Homo sapiens: one gene and its partners. The protein of the gene in region 2 purifies or fractionates together with the protein of the main gene of each other region. This does not show direct contact. Each region holds a gene or a part of one and is shown on either strand. Other genes may lie near its edges. The genes, in order: DPH1, ZC2HC1B and POTEE.

Evidence for each region.
Region 1: the proteins of ZC2HC1B (region 2) and DPH1 purify together in Homo sapiens (affinity purification with mass spectrometry; one large-scale study listed by BioGRID and IntAct). This does not show direct contact.
Region 3: the proteins of ZC2HC1B (region 2) and POTEE purify together in Homo sapiens (affinity purification with mass spectrometry; one large-scale study listed by BioGRID and IntAct). This does not show direct contact.

What each region holds. Positions count from the first base shown.
Region 1 is NC_000017.11:2,036,643-2,040,293, reverse strand, and holds part of DPH1 (2-(3-amino-3-carboxypropyl)histidine synthase subunit 1), read right to left. Parts: coding exon 3,608-3,651; intron 3,460-3,607; coding exon 3,338-3,459; exon of another isoform or gene 2,956-3,337; intron 896-2,955; exon of another isoform or gene 540-895; coding exon 471-539; intron 77-470; coding exon 1-76. UniProt on the Homo sapiens protein: Catalyzes the first step of diphthamide biosynthesis, a post-translational modification of histidine which occurs in elongation factor 2.
Region 2 is NC_000006.12:143,863,199-143,867,393, reverse strand, and holds the start of ZC2HC1B (zinc finger C2HC domain-containing protein 1B), read right to left. Parts: upstream 2,921-4,195; 5' UTR 2,855-2,920; coding exon 2,827-2,854; intron 1-2,826. Other genes in the region: protein LTV1 homolog, read right to left, coding at 3,867-3,977, 4,108-4,195.
Region 3 is NC_000002.12:131,226,451-131,230,101, forward strand, and holds part of POTEE (POTE ankyrin domain family member E), read left to right. Parts: intron 1-372; coding exon 373-479; intron 480-1,793; coding exon 1,794-1,931; intron 1,932-3,651.

The DNA of each region.
Region 1 (3,651 bases), on a different chromosome or scaffold from region 2:
GGCTTCTTGGCGAGCAGCCTGCATGCGCTGGTGGTCATAGTGTTCTCTGGATAGGACTTTGCTATATGGGTCATACCTGGAAAAGAAGCAGTCAGGGTCACTGTGGCAGCCACTGTCAGGACCAGTATTATGCACACAGCTCCTGACTCAGCCCCGTGGGCTCCTGAACCTTTAGGCCCCACGCAGGTAATTAAGAACAGAGGCAAGAGCGGGGACTGTCATTAGGAAGACCTGTCCCACAGCTGGAGCAGACAAGAGTGGGCGGCTTTAAGATCTCCGTGTAAACCCCAGGAGACGGGTAGGCAACAGCAGCCCTGGGGCTAATGCCCAGATCCAGGGCCCAAGTGCCTCAGACCCTTAGGGCTGGTGGCTTAGTGGCCAGGAAATGGGGATGCAACCAATTGAGGACCTCAGTGGCAGGGAATCTCACCCCTCACCAGCTGGTCAGCCCAGCCCGGCCCAGCCCATACCGGTAAGCGGGGACATTGGGGTTGGCAATCATGACAGACTCCAGATGGAAGCGGCCATCTCCAAGATACCTGCAGGGGTGGAAAGGAGGCTAAGTGTGGTTTAGGGCAGCAGAAGAGGCACTCGCTGGCTTAGAAGTCCACAGGGCTGGCCGGGCGCGGTGGCTCACGCCTGTAATCCCAGCACTTTGGGAGACCGAGGCGGGCGGATCATGAGGTCAGGAGATCGAGACCATCCTGGCTAACACAGTGAAACCCCGTCTCTACTAAAAATACAAAAACTTAGCTGGGTGTGGTGACGGGCGCCTGTAGTCCCAGCTACTCGGGAGGCTGAGGCAGGAGAATGGCGTGAACCCGGGAGGCGTAGCTTGCAGTGAGCTGAGATCGCGCCACTGCACTCCAGCCTGGGTGACAGAGTGAGACTCCGTCTCAAAAAGAAAAAAAAAAAAAAAGAAGTCCACAGGGCTGCCAGGTGCAGTGGCTCATGCCTGTAATCCCAACACTTTGGGAGGCCGAGGCGGGTGGATCACGAGGTCAGGAGATCAAGACCATCCTGGCTAACACGGTGAAACCCTGTCTCTACTAAAAATACAAAAACTTAGCTGGGCGTGGTGGCGGGCACCTGTAGTCCCAGCTACTGGGGAGGCTGAAGCAGGATAATCACTTGAACCCGGGAGGCAGAGGCTGCAGTGAGCCGAGATCGCACCTCTGCACTCCAGCCTGGGCGACAGAACAAGACTCTGTCTCAAAAAAAAAAAAAAGTCCAGAGGACTGAGTTCACAGCTGGCTGTGCTGTGCCTCTGTGTAAACTGGGACAAGCCTTCACTTCACCTCTTGGAGCCTTGGTTTTCTCACGTGTGAAATAAGGAGTTTGAATTGGATGACTCTACGGTCCCTCTATTTACATAATGCAGAATCTAAGAACCGTCCCACCCCAAGCTTCTGAGGAAGAGTGAAGGAGCAGCCGGCCGTGGTGAGGCCACCTGGGGTTCTAGAGATCCTCATTTGGAAGTTGGGGAACAGATTCTCCTTCACAAGCTCAATACAGATGTGGACAGTAGTGTTCAAGGAGTCATCTACGCCAGCAGTAACCAATATTTTTGGCACTGGGAACAGGTTTTGTGGAAGACACGGGTGGGATTGGGGGATGGTTTCAGGATGAAACTGTCTCACCTCAGATCATCAGGCATTAGGATCTCATAAAGATCATGCAACCTAGATCCCTCGCATGTACAGGTCACGATAGGGTTTGAGCTCCTACAAGAATCTAATGCCGCGGCGGATCTGACAGGAGGCGGAGCTCAGGTGGTCACGCTGGCTGGCCCACCCCTCACCTTCTACTGTGCGGCAGGTTTCCTAACAGGACATGGGACCAGGGGTTGGGGACCTCTGATCTATGCTGTACATGAGGTTGCAGGGCATACAATGGCTACTTTCTGCCCAAACTAGCTCTTGGGGCCAGTTACTGAGTTATAACAAAAGCTACCGGATTTTCATTTTGTTTTTTTGAGGCAGGGTCTTACTCTGTCACCCAGGTTGAGTGACTCGGTCATGGCTCGCTGCAGCCTCAACCTCCCAGGCTCAAGCGATCCTCTCACCTAAGCCTCCTGAGGAGCTGGGACTACAGGCATGGACACTGTACCCAGCTAATTCTTTTTTTTTTTTTTTTTTTTTTTTTTGGAGAGAACAGGGTTTCATTATATTCCCCAAGCTGGTCTCAAACTCCTGGACATATGCAATTCTCCTGCCTTGGCCTCCCAAAGTGTTGAGATTACAGGCGTGAGCCACTGTGCCCGGCCAACAGCTACTGTTTATTGGACTTGTGCCTTCTGTGTACCAGGCATAGACTAAGTACCTGCTGTGAATTAGTTCACGCAGTCCTATCTCCTAATCCTCCCAGATACGTATAGTATACCTGTTTTACAGAAGGTAACAACTGAGGCTCAGGGATGTTAAGAAACTCGCCTAGTATTAAACAGCTAGGAAGCAGTGTGTCTGAGGCTCAACCCAGGCTGTACCAAGTGTGCCCCCAGACATGCTGTCCCTGACAGTAGCTTCCCAGCCCATGAAGATTACAGAGCGTGGAAGATAACCTGCCTGTGGCAGCTCCTTCTCTCCCTCTTGGAGACCACACTTCATTCTGATGAATGGCTAACACTCAGGGTGTCCCTCCCTCCAACATACACTTTGAAGACCCCAAGGGTAGAGACTGAGTGACGTGGGCACAGGGGGAATGCCACTCAGTGCTGCTCGGGGAGCAGGGCTGCCAGATCTGGGCTGGGGAAGGCCCTGATGTGGGCCTGTCTAGGGACAGGGGTGTCAGGCCTGTGGAAACAGCCTCCAAAGCCCCAGAGGTGGGACTGAGTCAGGGAGCGACCCTCCCTCCCTGCCATTAGTACGGAACGGGACTCCCTTCCCTAGTCCCAGTCGGGGGAGCCGTCGGCTCTCAGGCTGGCTGCATTCACACAACATTAAGCATTTCCATTACCTAAAATAATTAGGCGGCAGGAGACACGCTGCTTCTGCTTGTTAGCTGTCCGGATGGTAAATTAATGGGGCTGCAGCCTGGGCGTGCCCATCCATCTTCTCCAATTATATTCCCACCATTTCCAGCCCACCCTCAACCCCCATCAGGCCCTCTGATTCCTGCCCCCACCCTGCACAGCCTTCTGGATGATGGACTGGGCAGTGGAGAAAGCGACAGTAAACCTGAGGTCTGCTCCCTGTTTGGTCCCTACCTTGCAGTGTGACCTCGGGCTCACAGGTAAGGAGCATTAGATTTGGTTTCTTTCCTGGATGATGAACCTCAGGCTCCCTCCCAGGGTACACGCATGTCTCTAGGACTTACTTGGCCCCCATTTTTAACTTACACAACGGCCTCCACCTCTTTGGACAGTCGGGGGGATGTGCAGCCCAGGATCTCTCCAGGGGACAGGGGCTTGCACTGTGGGACACTCACACGATACTCGGCTTTCAGCTCCTGGGCGGCTGCCTGTAGGAATGACGAGGGAAGTGAAGCCAGCGGCTGGGGCAGGAGAGCCAGGGCTGAGAAACAGCCTGGAGCACCTGGGGATCCCGCAACAGCTGGAGAGTGGCCGCTGTCCACCCTGCAGGAGGCCGAGGATCCTCGTTCCACCCACCTGCAAGGTCGACACAAACTGAATGGTGCTGACCAGGGCAAGGG
Region 2 (4,195 bases):
CCAGGGACTGTTCACAGTTCATCTTCCCTAGGATGCTTTCATCTAATTGGTAGCAAACACTGACCTCAAAAAGCTAAGTTTGTTTATTTCAGTTGTTCAAAATGAAACAAGATGTTGTGTTTAAGGATACTATACAAGTGGCTTTAAAAAAGAAGGAAATACTTAATGCAGGTTAAGTATCCCTTATCCAAAATGCTTGGGACCAGAAGTGTTTCAGATTTTTTTTCAGACTTTGGAACAAGATATCATGGGGATGGGACCCAAGTCTAAACACTTTATTTCGTATGTCACCTTACACACACAGCCTGAAAGTAACTTTTTGCAATATTTTAAATACTTTTGTGCATGAAACAAAGCTTGTATTAAGTACTTATACACGGTATTTTCTATTTGTTGTCTCACATTGGCACTCAACGTTTTTGGATTTTGGATTAGAGATGTTCAACTTCTATGACAGCTGGATACTATGCAAGAATTACCTGAGGGGAAAGAGTGAAATGAAATCAAGGATGGATTCACAGGGGACTTCTATGTTCTATTTCTTAACTTGAACAGTGGCCCTGTGTTTGCTTTAAATATTCTCCTGTAAGTTTCACAATTAAAATGCAAGGCCATTAGAATTTCTACCTTCTCTGCCCTTTAACTGGAACAAGACTGATAAAGCATACCAATGTCAACCCACATGAAGAAGTAACATAAAATTATTGAAAATGTAACAGTAAAGTTACAAGAGGTTAGAGTTCTTTCAACTGAGGTGACTTGATGACATCAAAATGGAGATGTAGATACAGGGCATCACAGGTAATAGACACAAGCGGTAACTGCACTTCAGACACTTAGACTTGTAAAGTAACAGACAGTCCTCAACTTATGATGGTTCAAGTTAACAATTTTTCCATGATGGTGAGAAAGCATATGTATTCAGTAGAAAGTGGTACAATCCTCTCGTGATGCTGGGCAGCAGTGGTGAGCCACTGCTCCCAGTCAGCCATGTGATCACGAGGGCAAATTGATAACTCTACAGCGTGCTGTATTGCCAGATGGTTTTGCACAACTGTGGGCTAATGGAAAGTATTCTGAGCAAGTTTAAGGTAGGCTAGGCTGAGCTATGATGTTCAGTAGGTTAGGTGTAGTAAATGCATTTTTGGCTTACCATGTTTTCAGCTTATGGTGGGCTTATCAGGGCATAATCCCACCACGAGTCAAGGAGCATCTGTGGTACTATGATATCCAAGTGGTTTTACACCATTCACGGGCAGTGCTTAAACAAAATAGGTGGGCCGGGTGTTGGCGGCTCATGCCTGTAATCCCAGCACTTTGGGAGGCCGAGGCGGGCGGATCATAAGGTCAAGAGTTTTGAGACCAGCCTGGCCAACATGGCGAAACCCTGTCTCTACTAAGAATACAAAAATTAGCTGGGCATGGTGGTGCACACCTGTAATCCCAGCTACTCGGGAGGCTGAGGCAGGGGAATCGCCTGAACCCGGGAGTTGGAGGTTGCAGTGAGATGAGATCGCACTACTGCGCTCCAGCTCGGGCGCCAGAGCAAGACCTGTCTTGGCAAAAAAAAAAAGTTTAAGATACAAATTCTTCAAGATTTTGCCCCCTGCCTGGATCTCTTAGGCCTTTCTCTCCTCCCTAACCCCAGTGATTCTAGGCCCTGCTATGGTTCTATGTTTAATTCTTTTCTGAAATCTTTCCCATCTATCCATTCATTCATACACTACTTTGTGACTGTATACTGAATGCCAGGCACCCTTCCAGACCTAAGGATAAAGCAATAAATAAAACACTGTGCCTTCAGGGTTTGTCCTGCGAGAGGAGACTGAAAAACAGTCCTCTGCGTCAACAGATGTTGTGGAGAACATAAACCAGGGAAGGAGGGTCAAGGATGCAGGGGAGGGATGCGTGCAGGATTTTTAAATACAAGCTCAGGGAATAGCCTATAGTGAAGGTTACAGCTGAGCACCAACCATGAGGAAGGTCTGTCTGCAGTGAAAGCACTTCTGGGGGAACAGCAAGTACCAAGATTCTAATTACAAGTGGTACTTACCACGATAGTATTGCCAGTTACATTTCGCTGCACCTATCCTGCCTCCTCAGACCATGTGGCTCCTGAAGGCAAAAACCCTCTGATCTCTTGGGCTCCCAACATTTAGCATGGAGCTTTTATGTTCAGTTCCCAATCATCATTTATAGATTTTTAGAGAACCAAGATATCAGAAAATTCATTTAAAGTATCATGAATTTGTTCTTCAGAATAAAATTAAAATATTTAAGTTTGGAGTATAACCTGCCTAAATCACAATATGCTTCATCAAGACTCATGGCCTAGTCTTTTTCTCTTAATTGCAAAATATATAATATATGGATTTAAACACAGTGAAGTTAGCACCTCATAACACAGAATTTGAGTAACATGACAAAGAAACATCCAATGCCTATTAAGACTCTTGCTGTTTTTGAGAATCTTCAGTTGAGACAGCTATCAAAATAAATGGCCAATCCTTTTAGTACTTACATTCTCAATATTGACATAAACCATCATCTGACCCTTTACTTCACAGGTTGGCATTTAAATACATTCTCTCCAGTATCCTACTTCTGCAATGACAAGCTCTTCAGTCAAGATTTTTTTCTAGCCAATGTTGGTAGAATACCTAATGCCATCAGTTTTGACAACTCTTTAAAAATCCTACAATACTTAGATTTAAACGGATCACACATGGTAGAACAAGCTAATACCTACCAGCTTTGGAAAAGCCATAAATGAATGATTACAGATGAAGGCATTTTCTAATAATTTAGATATCAAGTGCAGCTCACCTGCCAAAAATGGTTCTGCCCCAGCCATTCTGTTCCTAACTCAGAGCAACAGTGTTCACAGATTTTTACAGCCCAGTCCAGATAACATCATACTAGTCAAGAACATAAACCAGGACCACTAATCTGTTGCAAGAAGTCATAGTTTACCAAATAATCAACAATTGTGATGATGTCATTGCCTAAACCTTGAAAAAGTTTAAATCAGTTAAAACAAAAATCAACTCATCAAAAACAGGGAAAGTTTTCAACGATGTATTTTAATCAAGTATGAATGGTTCCAAGCATTAACTGATGTTGAAAAGACAAACTCCCCAGTTTAAACTGAAATAAATATTTCTGATTTTGAACTAGGGACTCACTGAAGCCAAATAAGTTTTCTTATTTCCTTGACTATTCTGTTTCCTGCCTTCACTGTTCCTAAATCCCAAAAGCAAGTCATCCAGTAATATAACAGGAAATATGAATCTTAAGAACCTTAATATTCAGTTTTGCCACACTTTTGAAACAGTCCTTTGTATACAGCAAGGGAAAACTTAGCTTCCTAACAGTGGAACCTTCTCAGAAAAACTCATCTTACACTAAACAGAATAAAGTCAGCATTTCAAAATTGAGTTTAACCAGGCCACTTTTCTATTTACAGCAAATTAAACCATGTAATTCCTGAAAAGGCGTGGAGAGGATTCAAAGAAATATTTGAAAACATCTGCAAAAAACAACTATGACAACCATACAAATAAATGAATACACCAATTCCATTCACGTTATGAAGATATTTTCCTTTAATTTATCAAACATTTCACATTCATGAAGTCATTTACTTCAGAGCAAATGTAAGCTTATAATATTAAAAATTAAAGTATTACAATATTTACAAGATGGTTGGCAGGGGACACTTACTAGTATAAAAATAATACAAATATTGTATTTTCCTCTTATCTGCCAGTAAAAATGGCAAACAGTTTTGTCTTTCTGAAGTTTCTAGTCAATAACCAAAGATGAGGAGCCCCTAATAAAGTGCCTTGCCCTGTATGCTCCACTGTCTATAGCTTTAGACCCTCAACATTCTTCTTCAAGTTCAGCAGCTCTTTTTCTTGCCTTCTTTTCTCCAGTTTAAATGCTAATTTGTTAGCTTTCTTCTCCACTCTTCGTTCCTGTTATAAGTACAAGAATATACTTGTATTATTCACATCTTTAAACTGATACAGACTGCTTTTACAAAATTCCCCTAATTTCCCCTCCACCAGCTCTTTGTAAATCTCACATTTGAAAAATATATTTTACCTTGCGCTCTTCTTTTATAGCTTGCTTTCTTGCTCTTTTATCTTCTTTGCTTTCATTTTTAGAACGTGGCTGAGTTGATACTTTAGGA
Region 3 (3,651 bases), on a different chromosome or scaffold from region 2:
CTTAGGGTTGAGGATATAGAGACAAAAGATACAGCCCCTGCCCTCAAGAAGCTTTTTGTTTAGATGGGAAAAATATTATCATCCAATAACACCATGCCAAATGCTGGTTTAGAAGCAAAGAGCCTTGGAAGCAGTAAATGTTTAAAGTGAGTTTTTGAGATGATTAGAGTTACTGTGGTGAGGCAGAGAAGGGGTGTTTCCAAGGGAAGGAGCAGCGTGTGGGAAAGCACAGAAGAGTGAGAAGGAAGCGAGTACATTTTATTTACTTTCTATGCGTGTAAGTCCATAAGATCTTACATAAAGTTTCCACTTTGGTTGAGGAATATGTACTTTTTTGAATTACATAGGTTTTTGCTTTATATTGTTTTACAGCATGGCCTCACACCACTGTTACTTGGTGTACATGAGCAAAAACAGCAAGTCGTGAAATTTTTAATCAAGAAAAAAGCGAATTTAAATGCACTGGATAGATATGGAAGGTATAGTTCTTTCTTTTAATCTGTGTGTTCTAGATGGACAGCAGTCACTCAAGTCATAAATATTAAATTAATAAGATTAATGTATACTTACTGGGATGTAGTGATCAGTATCAACACAAATCAGTTAGGTAGAAAAACAATTACTTGGGCTGGGCAACATAAAGAACAGTTTTAGTAGGATTCATCTTCTCTTATTATATTGACTGATGTTATTTGTTATGTGACATTTTTGGTTACATGATCTTATGTTAGCTTAAAGGATTTCATATTAATTTTATGAAGTTTGAACTTTAACTTTTAGTTTACTTTATGACTCAGTATTGAACTTCTTAACCCTTTCTAATAGTTTTTAACCTGTGTCTTACATGCTTTTCCATTAAATCTGCTGTATTAAACATAAATAGGGGTTGAAAATCCTTTTGTCTTTTTAATGACTTTGCTTTAAGTTGCTTTCTTTGAAGAATATTAGTGTTAGCTTATCCCTACATGACAATTAATTGCTGTTCCCACATACTGTGGGTTCAACAGCTTTTTTCCTTTTGTTTTTCCAGTGTGTTTTGATGTTTTTATTTTTAATTGGTATGGAGAGAGGGAGTGAAGATAGTTTTAAGTGGATACACTTTTCCTTTAATGAAGACAAGCCGTACGTGGGTGATAAAGAGAAAAGAGCTAGGCTTTGGATTCACACAAGACTGGGTTTAATTAGTAACTTTCTTACTTGCTAGGTGTGTGACCTTGGGGACGTTATTTACCACCAAATATGTTGTCATATATGAAAAGTAGGAGAATATATCCTTCAAAGTTGGCTGTGCATAAGTAAGAAAGATACATGTGGCATTTAATTCAGTGCCTAGCACATGGTTATTGGCACCATTAACTGAAACTCCTATGACTACTATTCTTACCATTATTATTACTGCTTTGAGCATGCAGAGAGCTCTTATTTCTCTTACCCCCTAGCTGATTTTCTATTACAGCATGTCAGTCTAGGGAAGCTGTGACAAAATCTTCACTTAAATCTTTGTCCACCTCAGATAAGTGGCCCTAACATTGTTTCTTGCCCATCAAAGGACTTTAAATTAGTAGCTTCTGCTATGCAATACCCCACTGAGATAAGAGGGTTTTTTTTGGTCCCTTCCTTTTAACCTTGGTGGCATTTTACAAAGATGAACACTTGAGCACTCAAGATGCTTATGTCTTTTAGTGCATGTAAATGTTTGATTCTGCACAGACAGGCAAGATGTTACATTGGTAAAGTATATCAAATTAGCTTTAAAAATAACTTTATTACAGTTCCTATCTCTGTCATTTTAGGACTGCTCTCATACTTGCTGTATGTTGTGGATCAGCAAGTATAGTCAGCCTTCTACTTGAGCAAAATATTGATGTATCTTCTCAAGATCTATCTGGACAGACGGCCAGAGAGTATGCTGTTTCTAGTCATCATCATGTGTAAGTGTTTACATTAAAAGGCTAGTTAATGCTGAATTGAGGTTTAAAATAATTATAACAGTTGCATCTCACATATCAGGTGAGATGTCATAGTTTGGTTCAGGTAGTTTTCGCGTGGCAGTGAGTTAGTCCCCTGCATCAGCCAGAAATCAGACAAAAAGCAAGACAAGTTAGAAGTACCAATGGGTGCGGGATTCTTTATCTCAGGACTTTTAAGATCTTTATCCTTAGAGATCCCAGCATTGTTCATTTGATCCAAGTGTAACACCTATGCAGGGATAAAAAATAGTGTCACATCTTTAATTTTTCTGATTAGTTATTTGGGTCTTGAAATGTCTAGTTTAGCGGAAAGTCTTGTACTGTCTTCTGGGGACTATGTCCTACATACTCCTTGAATTTTTCAAGAACCGAAGGAGTTCACTAAATCCAAGGAAGACAGTCCCTTTTATCAAGTCAGAAGGAGGAGGAAAAAAGACATTGCAATCATTCTGTTGTTTCCGTTGATTTTGTTGCTGCTTTGTGGCCACTCAAACTGGTCCTGCTGCCTTAAGATGAATCAGTAGATTCAGATCCCTCAAGTCTTCATGGCGATTCATACAGTGACTTTGATGTTTTTTAATTCCCATACCTATGCTTATATGCTCAGCCATTGTTCCCAGAGCACCAGCCCCCTGCTCTGGCCGCTGGGCATCTTGACTTTATCCGCACACAAAGTGACCAAATTGACCCTTCCCCACATATTCAGAACCTAATGTGGAACCCACATCTTAGCCAGGAATTAGCTGAGACCTTCATGGTAAGAGATCCTTTGAGGCTGTTGTTGGTCTTTTCTCTGGCAGATGTTAGGTGGGCTTGTTCTAAAGGGTGAGAGGGGTTCAAATAATGTGGCAGAAAGAGGTCAGTGTTTGTTTCCTCTTTGCTACCAGATCTGTACTGTGAGGCACCTTTATATCCTGTATAGAACCCAGTAGAAAGTCCCATATGAACCTTGCCCTGAGCAGTGGCTCCCAGCTGTGGTTGGCCCCTTGAGTGATCTGATTTACATGATAATGAAAATTGTCGGAGCTACTTCCATCTCTAGCTCAAGATTTTAAGATATTTTCAAACTCTAGCTCACAGGAAGCCATTGAAGAGAATTCTCAGAATCTCAAGTAGGTTAGTTGGACTTCACAGAGCCAAGCCTTGTCCATGACGCATCACTAATCATGTGTAAAAGTAGGGCTTTGTGCTTGCTTCGGCGGCACATATCCTAAAATTGGAACAATACGGGGAAAGTTAGCATGGCTTCTGCATAAGGAGGCAGCACAGATCTTTGAAGCATTCCATATTTTGTGCAGTCACTGGAAGGTCATTTGACTATTTGCTGACTAGCTCTGAGGAAATAGTGTGAATCAAAGCAAAATGGGTGCCACCCAAATATTGAAATTGTGATTTGTGCTGCAAAAATAGTCATGTAAGATGGTCTATGAGATGACTTAGACCTGAATAACATGTTCGGTGCAAAATATATTGTTAGTATGTATGTCGAAAATTACAGAATGTCAGCTTGCTACTTCTCTGTGGAAACTAAAAAAAAATAAAAGTAGACTTTTGGTCTCCCATGTCAGCTGGAATTGAACATCAATATAAAGCATTATCCTAACAGACATCTACTGGCTGAGAGTTTGAGTCTGTAGAGAAGGATCGTTGGTCCAAGTCAGGTCTTAACATCCATTGGTTT